Regions from separate parts of the Homo sapiens genome. Here region 1 is linked to region 2. The links come from fine-mapping of genetic effects on gene expression. A gene starts in region 2. The other region holds a variant in brackets. All regions are shown on one strand. Distances are between the middles of the regions.

Region 1 (5,374 bases), 790 kb after region 2:
TCCTTAACCTTGGCAAAATATACTTCTAAAATGATTGAGACCTGTCTTACATACTTTTTGGTTTACAGCAACAATCTGAAATCCAGTGAGCATGGAGCCCTGTGATCACTCAGGGTTGGAACCTAGAGGCCTGGAACGCAAGCCCTCTGACTATGAGAGCTTTCCACCTCTACCCCTGCTCCCTGGCTCTTCCCTGCCTTTAAAACCAGCTTTTTATTCCACTGCTCTCTGCTGGGGGTTAGGGCTGGCACACCTGGGTAATAATGTTTACCACTAATTTTGCAAATGGGTTTCCATTAATTAGCCAGCCTGTTGCTGTCAGCTGCCTGGCTGGAATTCTTTCAGCAGCTGGCTTTTTGGCTGTTAAAATGCCACAGGGACTTGTTGCTTGATGCATTTCCTCAGGGGGTTTGCTCTGTCAAGAAGGCTTTGCCAAAATAGAGAAAGCTAAAACTCCTGTTAACAAATTGCACCTAATCTTATCTCCATGTAGGCTTCCCTAGCTGATTTGTCCTGGGAGTTGGGGGAGCTTGTGGGAACACATATGTATGCACTGGAAGGGGGGGTGGGGGCTGCTGGCATAATGTGGGCAAGTTTGGGCAGAGCCAGGCCCAGGCAGGTTGTGGTAGAGACAGAGGTCAGCTCAGAGGTCAGCTCAGATGGGGCTGTTTGGCTCTTGTCCCAACACCCATCTGTATCACCCTCCCTCCATGGCCTCAGTTCTATTCTCTTGCATTTCCCCATACACAAGCCACTGGATCAGACTCAGGTCTCAGGAAACAGGCACAAAACAGACATGGCCCCTGAAATCTCAGCTCGGACAGGGGTTAAGGCAAACACAACCTCCCTAATTAAGTCAATGAATGAAAAGACTTTCAGAAAAGAAGGCAGGAACACAACCTGCCGAGAGGATCAGAAAATGCTTTATTGACAGGTGGCATCTGAGTGGGTCTAGAAGGTTGAATGGGAATTCAATGGCTGCTGGCAGAGTTACAAGTATGAGAAAAAGCAGGGAGGTGGGAATCCCAGGGCATATACGAGAAACATTGATTTCAACCAATTTGGCTGAAAAACAGGGAATTAGAAGCAACTACAGAGGTGATAACAAATAATAATAACAGTTCCCTCTGAGAAGTCAATCTGTAAATAAACAAGCTCTAGAAAATGTCTACAAGCTCATCAGAGTCCCAGTTTCTTAATGTGATGGGTGATCCAGAAGCTATTAGTAAGCACTCACCAAGGGTGTCCCCAAGGCTGTGACTAAAACACACTTCCACCCACAGCCCAGCCCCTGGGACTCCCCTCCATACATCCCATTCCATTTCATCCTCATAGCGCCTGAGGAGGTAAGATTATATGCCCACTCTACAGATGGGGAAAGTGAGGCCCAGGATTTTGAGGTAGGCAACAACATGTTCAGGGTCTCGTAGTGTGAAGTGCTTAAAAAACAAAACAAAACAAAAAAAAAACGGTGAATAAAGGAGGCAGATTTTTCCAATGAACTTACAGTCTTTTCAGAGTTTTCTTTAATAATTCAATGCATGTGTTCATTGAGGCGCTGGGGATAATAGGGTGACCCCAGGCTAGGAGGGGAACTGAAACATGAGCCAATGATTAGAGCAACACAGTGTTGCCATAACCTAGGGAATGGAAGGAGGGATTCCCAATGCTGCCACGGAGCTCAAGGATGTCTTCCATGGGAGGTGAAGCCTGACTGAAATCTGAAAGAATCTCATCCTGTGCAGAAAGATGGACAGAGCCAGGAATGCAGGTAGAGGGAACAGCCTGTGCAAAGGCACAGAGACACGAAACACAAATTGACTAGAATATAAGTTCTGTGAGAACAAGAGCTTTGTCTTCATCAATATGTCCAGGCCCTGACCATAATAGATGCTCTCAATGAATATTGAATACATGAATGAATAAATGTATCAACAACTGAATTTTATTAACTTTCAGGAAGAGTTCAAACCGCAAATTGTTTTAATCTTTTCCAACTTGTCCTTTCACCCATGTCTTGAGGAATCCTCCTTTCCACCCCTTAGGCAGATCCCAGCATGTCTGTCCCTTCTAATATTAAGAATAGTCGCATTTTTGGAAGACTCACTCTATTAAGAAGTTCACTCTAGTCCAAAGCATCCTCCATCCCCAGCTCAGACCCAATTCATGGCTCAAGACCTCACAGTGGGGAAGGGGCAGAGCCTTTCCTTATTCCTCTCGTCCTCCCACTCTGCTGCTTCTAATGCCCCAGTGTCATGGCATGGGGAGGAGGGATTTGAGGAAAAGTTGTAGTCTTTCATTGAATCAGCTGTCTGCAATGAGCTACACTCCATTTTGTTTTGTTTGTTTGCTTATTTGTTTGTTTTT[C/CT]TTTTTTTTTTTTTTTTGGCCTGGCTTTTTTCTTTTTTATGTATTTGTTTATTTATTATTATTATACTTTAAGTTTTAGGGCACATGTGCACAATGTGCAGGTTAGTTACATATGTATACATGTGCCATGCTGGTGCGCTGCACCCACTAACTCGTCATCTAGCATTAGGTATATCTCCCAATGCTATCCCTCCCCCCTCCCCCCATCCCACAACAGTCCCCAGAGTGTGATGTTCCCCTTCCTGTGTCCATGTGTTCTCATTGTTCAGTTCCCATCTATGAGTGAGAATATGCGGTGTTTGGTTTTTTGTTCTTGCGCTAGTTTACTGAGAATGATGATTTCCAATTTCATCCATGTCCCTACAAAGGACATGAACTCATCATTTTTTATGGCTGCATAGTATTCCATGGTGTATATGTGCCACATTTTCTTAATCCAGTCTATCGTTGTTGGACATTTGGGTTGGTTCCAAGTCTTTGCTATTGTGAATAATGCCGCAATAAACATACGTGTGCATGTGTCTTTATAGCAGCATGATTTATAGTCCTTTGGGTATATACCCAGTAATGGGATGGCTGGGTCAAATGGTATTTCTAGTTCTAGATCCCTTAGGAATCGCCACACTGACTTCCACAATGGTTGAACTAGTGTACAGTCCCACCAACAGTGTAAAAGTGTTCCTATTTCTCCACATCCTCTCCAGCACCTGTTGTTTCCTGACTTTTTAATGATTGCCATTCTAACTGGTATGAAATGGTATCTCATTGTGGTTTTGATTTGCATTTCTCTGATGGCCAGTGATGGTGAGCATTTTTTCATGTGTTTTTTGGCTGCATAAATGTCTTCTTTTGAGAAGTGTCTGTTCATGTCCTTTGCCTACTTTTTGATGGGGTTGTTTGTTTTTTTCTTGTAAATTTGTTTGAGTTCATAGTAGATTCTGGATATTAGCCCTTTGTCAGATGAGTAGGTTGCGAAAATTTTCTCCCATTTTGTAGGTTGCCTGTTCACTCTGATGGTAGTTTCTTTGGCTGTGCAGAAGCTCTTTAGTTTAATTAGATCCCATTTGTCAATTTTGGCTTTTGTTGCCATTGCTTTTGGTGTTTTAGACATGAAGTCCTTGCCCATGCCTATGTCCTGAATGGTAATGCCTAGGTTTTCTTCTAGGGTTTTTATGGTTTTAGGTCTAACATTTAAGTCTTTAATCCATCTTGAATTGATTTTTGTATAAGGTGTAAGGAAGGGATCCAGTTTCAGCTTTCTACATATGGCTAGCCAGTTTTCCCAGCACCATTTATTAAATAGGGAATCCTTTCCCCATTGCTTGTTTTTGTCAGGTTTGTCAAAGATCAGATAGTTGTAAATATGCGGCATTATTTCTGAGGGCTCTGTTCTGTTCCATTGATCTATATCTCTGTTTTGGTACCAGTACCATGCTGTTTTGGTTACTGTAGCCTTGTAGTATAGTTTGAAGTCAGGTAGTGTGATGTCTCCAGCTTTGTTCTTTTGGCTCAGGATTGACTTGGCGATGCGGGCTCTTTTTTGGTTCCATATGAACTTTAAAGTATTTTTTTCCAATTCTGTGAAGAAAGTCATTGGTAGCTTGATGGGGATGGCATTGAATCTGTAAATTGCCTTGGGCAGTATGGCCATTTTCACGATATTGATTCTTCCTACCCATGAGCATGGAATGTTCTTCCATTTGTTTGTATCCTCTTTTATTTCCTTGAGCAGTGGTTTGTAGTTCTCCTTGAAGAGGTCCTTCACATCCCTTGTAAGTTGGATTCCTAGGTATTTTATTCTCTTTGAAGCAATTGTGAATGGGAGTTCACTCATGATTTGGCTCTCTGTTTGTCTGTTACTGGTGTATAAGAATGCTTGTGATTTTTGTACATTGATTTTGTATCCTGAGACTTTGCTGAAGTTGCTTATCAGCTTAAGGAGATTGTGGGCTGAGACAATGGGGTTTTCTAGATATACAATCATGTCGTCTGCAAACAGGGACAATTTGACTTCCTCTTTTCCTAATTGAATACCCTTTATTTCCTTCTCCTGCCTAATTGCCCTGGCCAGAACTTCCAACACTATGTTGAATAGGAGTGGTGAGAGAGGGAATCCCTGTCTTGTGCCAGTTTTCAAAGGGAATGCTTCCAGTTTTTGCCCATTTAGTATGATATTGGCTGTGGGTTTGTCATAGATAGCTCTTGTTATTTTGAGATACGTCCCATCAATACCTAATTTATTGAGAGTTTTTAGCATGAAGCATTGTTGAATTTTGTCAAAGGCCTTTTCTGCATCTATTGAGATAATCATGTGGTTTTTGTCTTTGGTTCTGTTTATATGCTGCATTACATTTATTGATTTGCGTATATTGAACCAGCCTTGCATCCTAGGGATGAAGCCCACTTGATCATGGTGGATAAGCTTTTTGATGTGCTGCTGGATTTGGTTTGCCAGTATTTTATTGAGGATTTTTGCATCAATGTTCATCAAGGATATTGGTCTAAAATTCCCTTTTTTGGTTGTGTCTCTGCCCGGCTTTGGTATCAGGATGATGCTGGCCTCATAAAATGAGTTAGGGAGGAGTCCCTCTTTTTCTATTGATTGGAATAGTTTCAGAAGGAATGGTACCAGTTCCTCCTTGTACCTCTGGTAGAATTTGGCTGTGAATCCATCTGGTCCTGGACTCTTTTTCGTTGGTAAGCTATTGATTATTGCCACAATTTCAGCTCCTGTTATTGGTCTATTCAGAGATTCAACTTCTTCCTGGTTTAGTCTTGGGAGAGTGTATGTGTCGGGGAATTTATCCATTTCTTCTAGATTTTCTAGTTTATTTGTGTAGACGTGTTTGTAGTATTCTCTGATGGTAGTTTGTGTTTCTGTGGGATCGGTGGTGATATCCCCTTTATCATTTTTTATTGCATCTATTTGATTCTTCTCTCTTTTTTTCTTTAGTAGTCTTGCTAGCAGTCTATCAATTTTGTTGATCCTTTCAAAAAACCAGCTCCT
Region 2 (5,374 bases):
CCCTCTTCCAAAAGGTAGAACCTGCTAGACGCAAGGCCTAAGGGGGAGCTGTGGTGAGAGGCCCAACCGGTTTTTTTTTTTTTTTTTTTTGAGACAGAGTCTCACTCTGTTGCCCAGGCTGGAGTGCAGTGGTGCAAAATCCGCTCACTGCAACCCCTGCCTCCCAGGTTCAAGAGATTCTCCTGCCTCAGCCTCCCAAGTAGCTGGGACTACAGGCGTGTGCCACCATGACTGGTTAATTTTTGTATTTTTAGTAAGACGGGGTTTCACCATGTTGGCCAGGATGGTCTCAATCTCTTGATCTCGTGATCCACCCGCCTCGGCCTCCCAAAGTGCTGGGATTACAGGCGTGAGCCACCGCGCCTGGCCAAGATGCCCAACTCTTAAGGAGAGAAAACTTCATGAGGCATTGCAGTACAGACCAGGCAGGATGCTCCAGACGTCTTGGGTTCACTCACAGGGAATATTTCTTTCTGTCAAATAAGGAGGTTACCCTGACACATTTCAGACAAAAAACAAGCTAGCATCTTTTGGCTTGGGGATACAACAGAGTCTGGTCTGATCCTGCTTTTAACTTCTTTATGAACGAATTATAGCACCACTTGTCTTTCTTAAAGTTTCCTCAGATCCCATCAGAAAATTTTCTGATGACCAGCATATGCCCACAGTAGAGTATAAAACAGAACTACCCAGCCACTGAAGTCAACTTTAGCTCTAAATGAAAGTTTTATGTCTCCTGAGCTTCCAAACAGGAAAATTATATCATGGCTGACAGTAAAGTAATTTAATTGCACTGTTGCTATGACAACATGCTGCTCTCTTTCTTTTTAATTTGCTTATTTGTCAGTAGCTTCCCAGAGGAACTAACACGCTATTCTCCATGTTTCCTTTTGTTTTAAACAAACACTGCCAGCAATATGGTTTTAGGAGAAAAAGTGGCATTGTCACGAAGAGAGGGTTATGGGAGTTCAGTACCCTTGGATCATGTGTGCGTTTTGTGCTGGGACCCCGTACTCTCCAACCACTCACTGCATCCCTATAAATCCCGCATTTTATACCAACAGGGTGAAGAGCTGCTGATCACTACAGTTCCATGTAAAAACAAAACAAAACAACAATAACCAAAAAAAAAAAAAAAAAAAAAAAAAAACAGTTCCCAGAAACCACAGCTGAGGAGTTTTCCATTATTATACTCTAACTACAGATTTCGCCAAATCTTTTTTTCCTCCTGTTTCAGAGGGAAAAAAAAAGAATCTGGATCATGTGAGTTGCAGTTAAGCAAACATTTTTAATCTGCTGCCAACAAGGCTGCTCCACCAGATACGCAAATAGTTATTCACTGGTGACCTCCTTACAACTTTTCTCTACACACACACACACACACACACACACACACACACACCCTCTTTTGTTTTTTTTATGACTTGCTGTGTTTTGTTACCCTCTTTATTTTTTAACGGAGAAAATGCGGCAAGAAAGCTTAGTTTCTCGCCTAGTAAACAGAAGGTCTCCAAATAACTGACAAAGACATTACTGGCCCAGCTCTGAACAGATGTTCGATGCGAACTTTAAAAAGTTAAGAAATCTTCCCAGAGCCGAGCAGTAGCGAGTTTGGGGGGCCGGGTCACCCCCGCCCACCCAGCACGCGCGCGCGCGCACGCACGCGCTTCACTCTCGTCTACTGTACTTGTCAAAAACATTTCAAGGGGACCTGCGGGAGTGGCGATTGGCTGCACCCCGCGTCAATCAGCGGCGTTGCCGGGCAACGGGGGAAACTGCTCTTATCCCCATATACAGGGCAATTGGGAGCTCGCATACCTTCACTGCCGGTCAGATGTCATAAACCTTTTATTGGCCGCACCGCGGCGAGCCTCGAAAACAAATCAATAAAAGCCCGCCGTCCCCCAACTTATCCAGGGCCCAAGGAGGGTTTCAAACAGGGCCGGGATGAGGGGGGTCGGGCCTCGGGGGTCTCCGGAGACGTTCGTTGCCTGTGCCAAGTCTGCACAGTTTGGCCGGGGGGTGATCTTTGTTAGGAGCCTGTTTCTCATCTTGGGGTCTCCACTTGATCGGAACCCCCTCCCCGGCCCGGAACGGCGGGGACCCCGTCCTCCGCAGACAATACCAACTCTGTTCCTTGCGGGCGTCTTTTCGGAAACCGAGGCACCGGGAAGCAGCACGCACGTCGGGGCAGGAAACTCTTCGGACCCGGCAACTTCCCGGCTCGGGGGCTCCCGGGGTCCACACCCGACCCTCCCCCCAGGACCTGCGGGGTCCCTCGTCTTCCCAGAGCGGCGAGGTAGTCTCCAGGACCGTCTCGGACGCGCCTCCCGCCCCGGGTGCCCCCCGAGCCCACGCGGGAGCCGGCAGGAGCGGGGTGCAAACTCACCTGGCCGGAGCGGGGCACGGGGGTGCGGGGGCGCCGCTGCCCTTCAGCAGGAGCCGACAAACTTTCGCGGGCGCCCGGCGGGCATCGCTCGGTGGCCCCGCTAAGGACGCGCGGGCGCGGCGCGGCGAGCCCGGGGCGGCGGGCGGCGGGGGGCGGCCGCGGGCGCGGGCGGCAGGGGCGCGGGGGTCGCGGCGCGGCATGGGACCTGCGGCGTCCGCCGGGCGCGCCGCGCGTCCTCCCGCCGGCCCCGCCGCTCTCCCCGCCCCGTCCCGCCTCCCGCTCGCCTCCGCCGCGGCGCGTCGGGCCGGGGCGCGCCGAGCGGCGAGAAATTGTTTCCACTGCAAACAAAAAAAGGCGACACATGACCAGGCAGGAGGAGGGGAAGCGCGGGGAGGGAGGAGGGCGGAGGGAGGGACAGAGCGGAGGGCGGAGGGAGCCGGAGAAAGGGAAAACGTGGGCCTGGCCGCCAGCGGCCTGGGGCGCGGGGCACTGACCCGCCGGGGCGGACCCTGCCCGCGCCCCTCGCGCGCCCCAGCACTCAGCCAGGGCGGAGGCCGGGGCTGGGCCGCGCGGCCTCGCCTCTTGGGCCCCGCGGGGCGGGGGTGACCGGCGCGGGTCCCGCGACCCAGGGCGGCCGCGACCGTGGGCGGTGGGGCAGGTGGGTCAGGCGGCGCGTGCCCTGTCCCCTCCCCGGGCTCCGGCCACACGAGCGGGCCGGCGCTGCGCTGCTGGCAACGTGTCGCGGGAACGCTCCTACCCCATCTGCATGCCTTACATGGCTCGAAAGTAAAAATAAAAAGAATTACGATGCGGGCGAGGCTTGTGGGGGTGAGAAGAGGAGATTCCACGTCTCCCCAGTGCTGCGTCCTGATAGGACCCCCAGGGCCTTCCGAGCCCTCTCCCAGCGACCACCTCGTGTCCCGGAGGTAAGCACCGCAGCGTCCCACCCAGGTGGCCGCGTGTCTCCCGAGGGAGGGCCGGTGGCCATTACAAGACAAGAGGCACCGTCCTAAAGGCCACGCCGGTGGGGCCTCTCAAGTGGGTTGTGCGGAACGCCCCGGCCGGCCTAGAGAGAAAACAGGTCTCATTTCCATCTCAGTTTGAGCTCTCAGGAACCAGACTGACAATTCGCAAGCCACCCAGCGAAATGGTGCAGCCACCACTCTAAGTCTCTAGGCACCTCCAAATAATAGCACCCACTGCTAAAGCCACACCAACCAGCCGCCTTGGGAGAGGATGAGAGGAGAGAGTCCAACAGGACACCCTGGTGGTGACAAAAATAAAAATGTGATTGCACATTACTCCCAGGTAGCCAAATTGGTTGGTTCCTCTACAGAGGAGAAGCCCAGGGCACCCTTCCTGCCACCCCCTCCTGAGCCAGTGGACAGGACATCGTGAGCGGTCTGAAAACTACAGAAAAAAACAGCGAGTAGACCTGGAGAAAGCTTTCTAGCATGCAGTACTTTTAAACCTAGCCAAAAGGAGGGACTAAGGGAAACACCAGTTAGGCTTCTGAAAATTTTTTCTGTCTCAAAAAATAGACCCCCCCCCCCCAATCTGAGAGTCATTCCCCCTAACAAAGGTTCAAGAGGGCAGGTGACAAGTCTTCAGCAAAGATGTGCCTTTCAGACTCACCGGAGACCTTACTACTTCCAAGTTGTGTGGCATCTCCCCATCTGGAGACAATTAGGAGGTGGAAGCCCAGGGGTAGCCTGAGGTCATCCAGCCCCACCCCTTTGATTACTGAGCACTTGATGCGACCTACCCAAAGTCACTAAGCAAAAGGCACAAGGTGGCAGAGACAAGTCAGATGATCTTTGAAGTCTCACGCCAGAGATTCTCAGGGTTAGAAGTGGTAACAAAGCCAGGATGAGACAATGTGTACCCTGCTTTCCTGTAGCTCCGGCTAATGCAGGTCCTGCCCCTCCATCAGCGCGTCAGTTGAGGGTGCTTATTCTCCGCCAGAGGAACCAAGGCCAGAGACCTTTGTCCAAGCCCTTGCTGGCCTAGAGAGGACGAAGTCGCCCCCTTACATCTTCCTCTTCCATCCCCAGCCCCCAACCCCACCCCCAAGTCCCCCAGCTACACTCACACAATAGCCAGAAATCTCTTTATATTAAGTAGAGGTGGCACCTTATTTTCACCGGCCCCAGTCCCCTCCTGCTTTCTCAGAGTTCAAAAAGAGGGGATGTGAGCCAAAGGTGATTGTACATGGAATATGTCATTCCATGTGTGTTTTTGCTTCTTGCATTCTCAAACATATTTCTTAATTTCTCTCTCCCATTACAGTTGCAGCAAGAGATGTGAGAAGGTGTCACCCTGAAGAGGAAGTGGTGGACCAGCCCTGCCTGATGTGGACAGCAGGGGACACATGTCTGCCTGTCGGTCTATCTGAAATGGGGGAAAAAATGCTGAAAGCCAAAGGAGGGCTTAATGTGGCCTTTTCCACCTTCTAATTCCATAGAACCTCAGCTCTGGGACTTGCTTCCTGACCTAGGGTGCAGGGGCCAAATTTGTTTGGGAACAACCCCATTCACAATTCCCCATGAACTTTCAGAAAGGACCCTTGCGTCTTAGGTCCTGAGAAGTCACAAATAAGCAAGCTGCATTGTCTAATGTCTTGTCTACACTGTTTTACAAACACATTTAACAGCCGAATTGTATATGTGCCCTAGAAATCACTTTGAGAAACACTTATTTCCTGATAGAGGACTTGATGGGACCATTCTGCAGCCCCATCTGAGCATGGGCTGGAGAGTACATAAGTATCTGGGAGCTGGAAGTCCTCAATTCCAGGCTTATCTGCCCCCATCAGCGTGGGACCTCAGTTCCTCCTCCAAGGAGAAGAGCGCCCCTCCCTTGATGTTTTGTGCATTCTTTTGCTAAATGTTTCTCTGGTCAAGAACTTTAATCCCCCTACACACACACTGTATTGGTTATTAGAGCAGCATGGCTATTTATGGAATAGTTAAGTATAAAACCCGA

Which allele goes with the higher level. Positions count from the first base shown, and alleles are read on the strand shown. Sizes are in standard deviations (SD) of each study's normalised expression.
For the expression in B cells of the gene that starts at base 2,873 in region 2, C is the low allele of the variant in region 1 and CT is the other (large effect, 2.1 SD a copy in Fairfax 2012).

What was found. PIP is the estimated chance that this variant, and not a neighbour inherited with it, causes the effect.
Region 1: its variant is fine-mapped to the expression of FOXN3-AS1 in B cells (Fairfax 2012, PIP 0.95).

Annotation. Positions count from the first base shown.
Region 1 is chr14:90,204,360-90,209,733 of GRCh38, forward strand. No RefSeq gene overlaps it. Among named protein-coding and RNA genes, the nearest start is that of PSMC1, 50 kb to the right of the region's middle. The variant C/CT (reference allele first, on the strand shown) is at 2,368.
Region 2 is chr14:89,414,482-89,419,855 of GRCh38, forward strand. It overlaps FOXN3-AS1 (FOXN3 antisense RNA 1), which reads left to right and starts at 2,873. Exons shown (of 2, transcript NR_036500.1): 1 at 2,873-3,315; 2 at 4,679-5,312. It overlaps FOXN3 (forkhead box N3), which reads right to left and starts at 2,752. Exons shown (of 6, transcript NM_005197.4): 1 at 2,390-2,752. RefSeq lists enhancers at 1,604-1,898, 1,913-2,446, 2,447-2,979, 2,604-2,898 and silencers at 2,594-2,803, 2,844-3,133.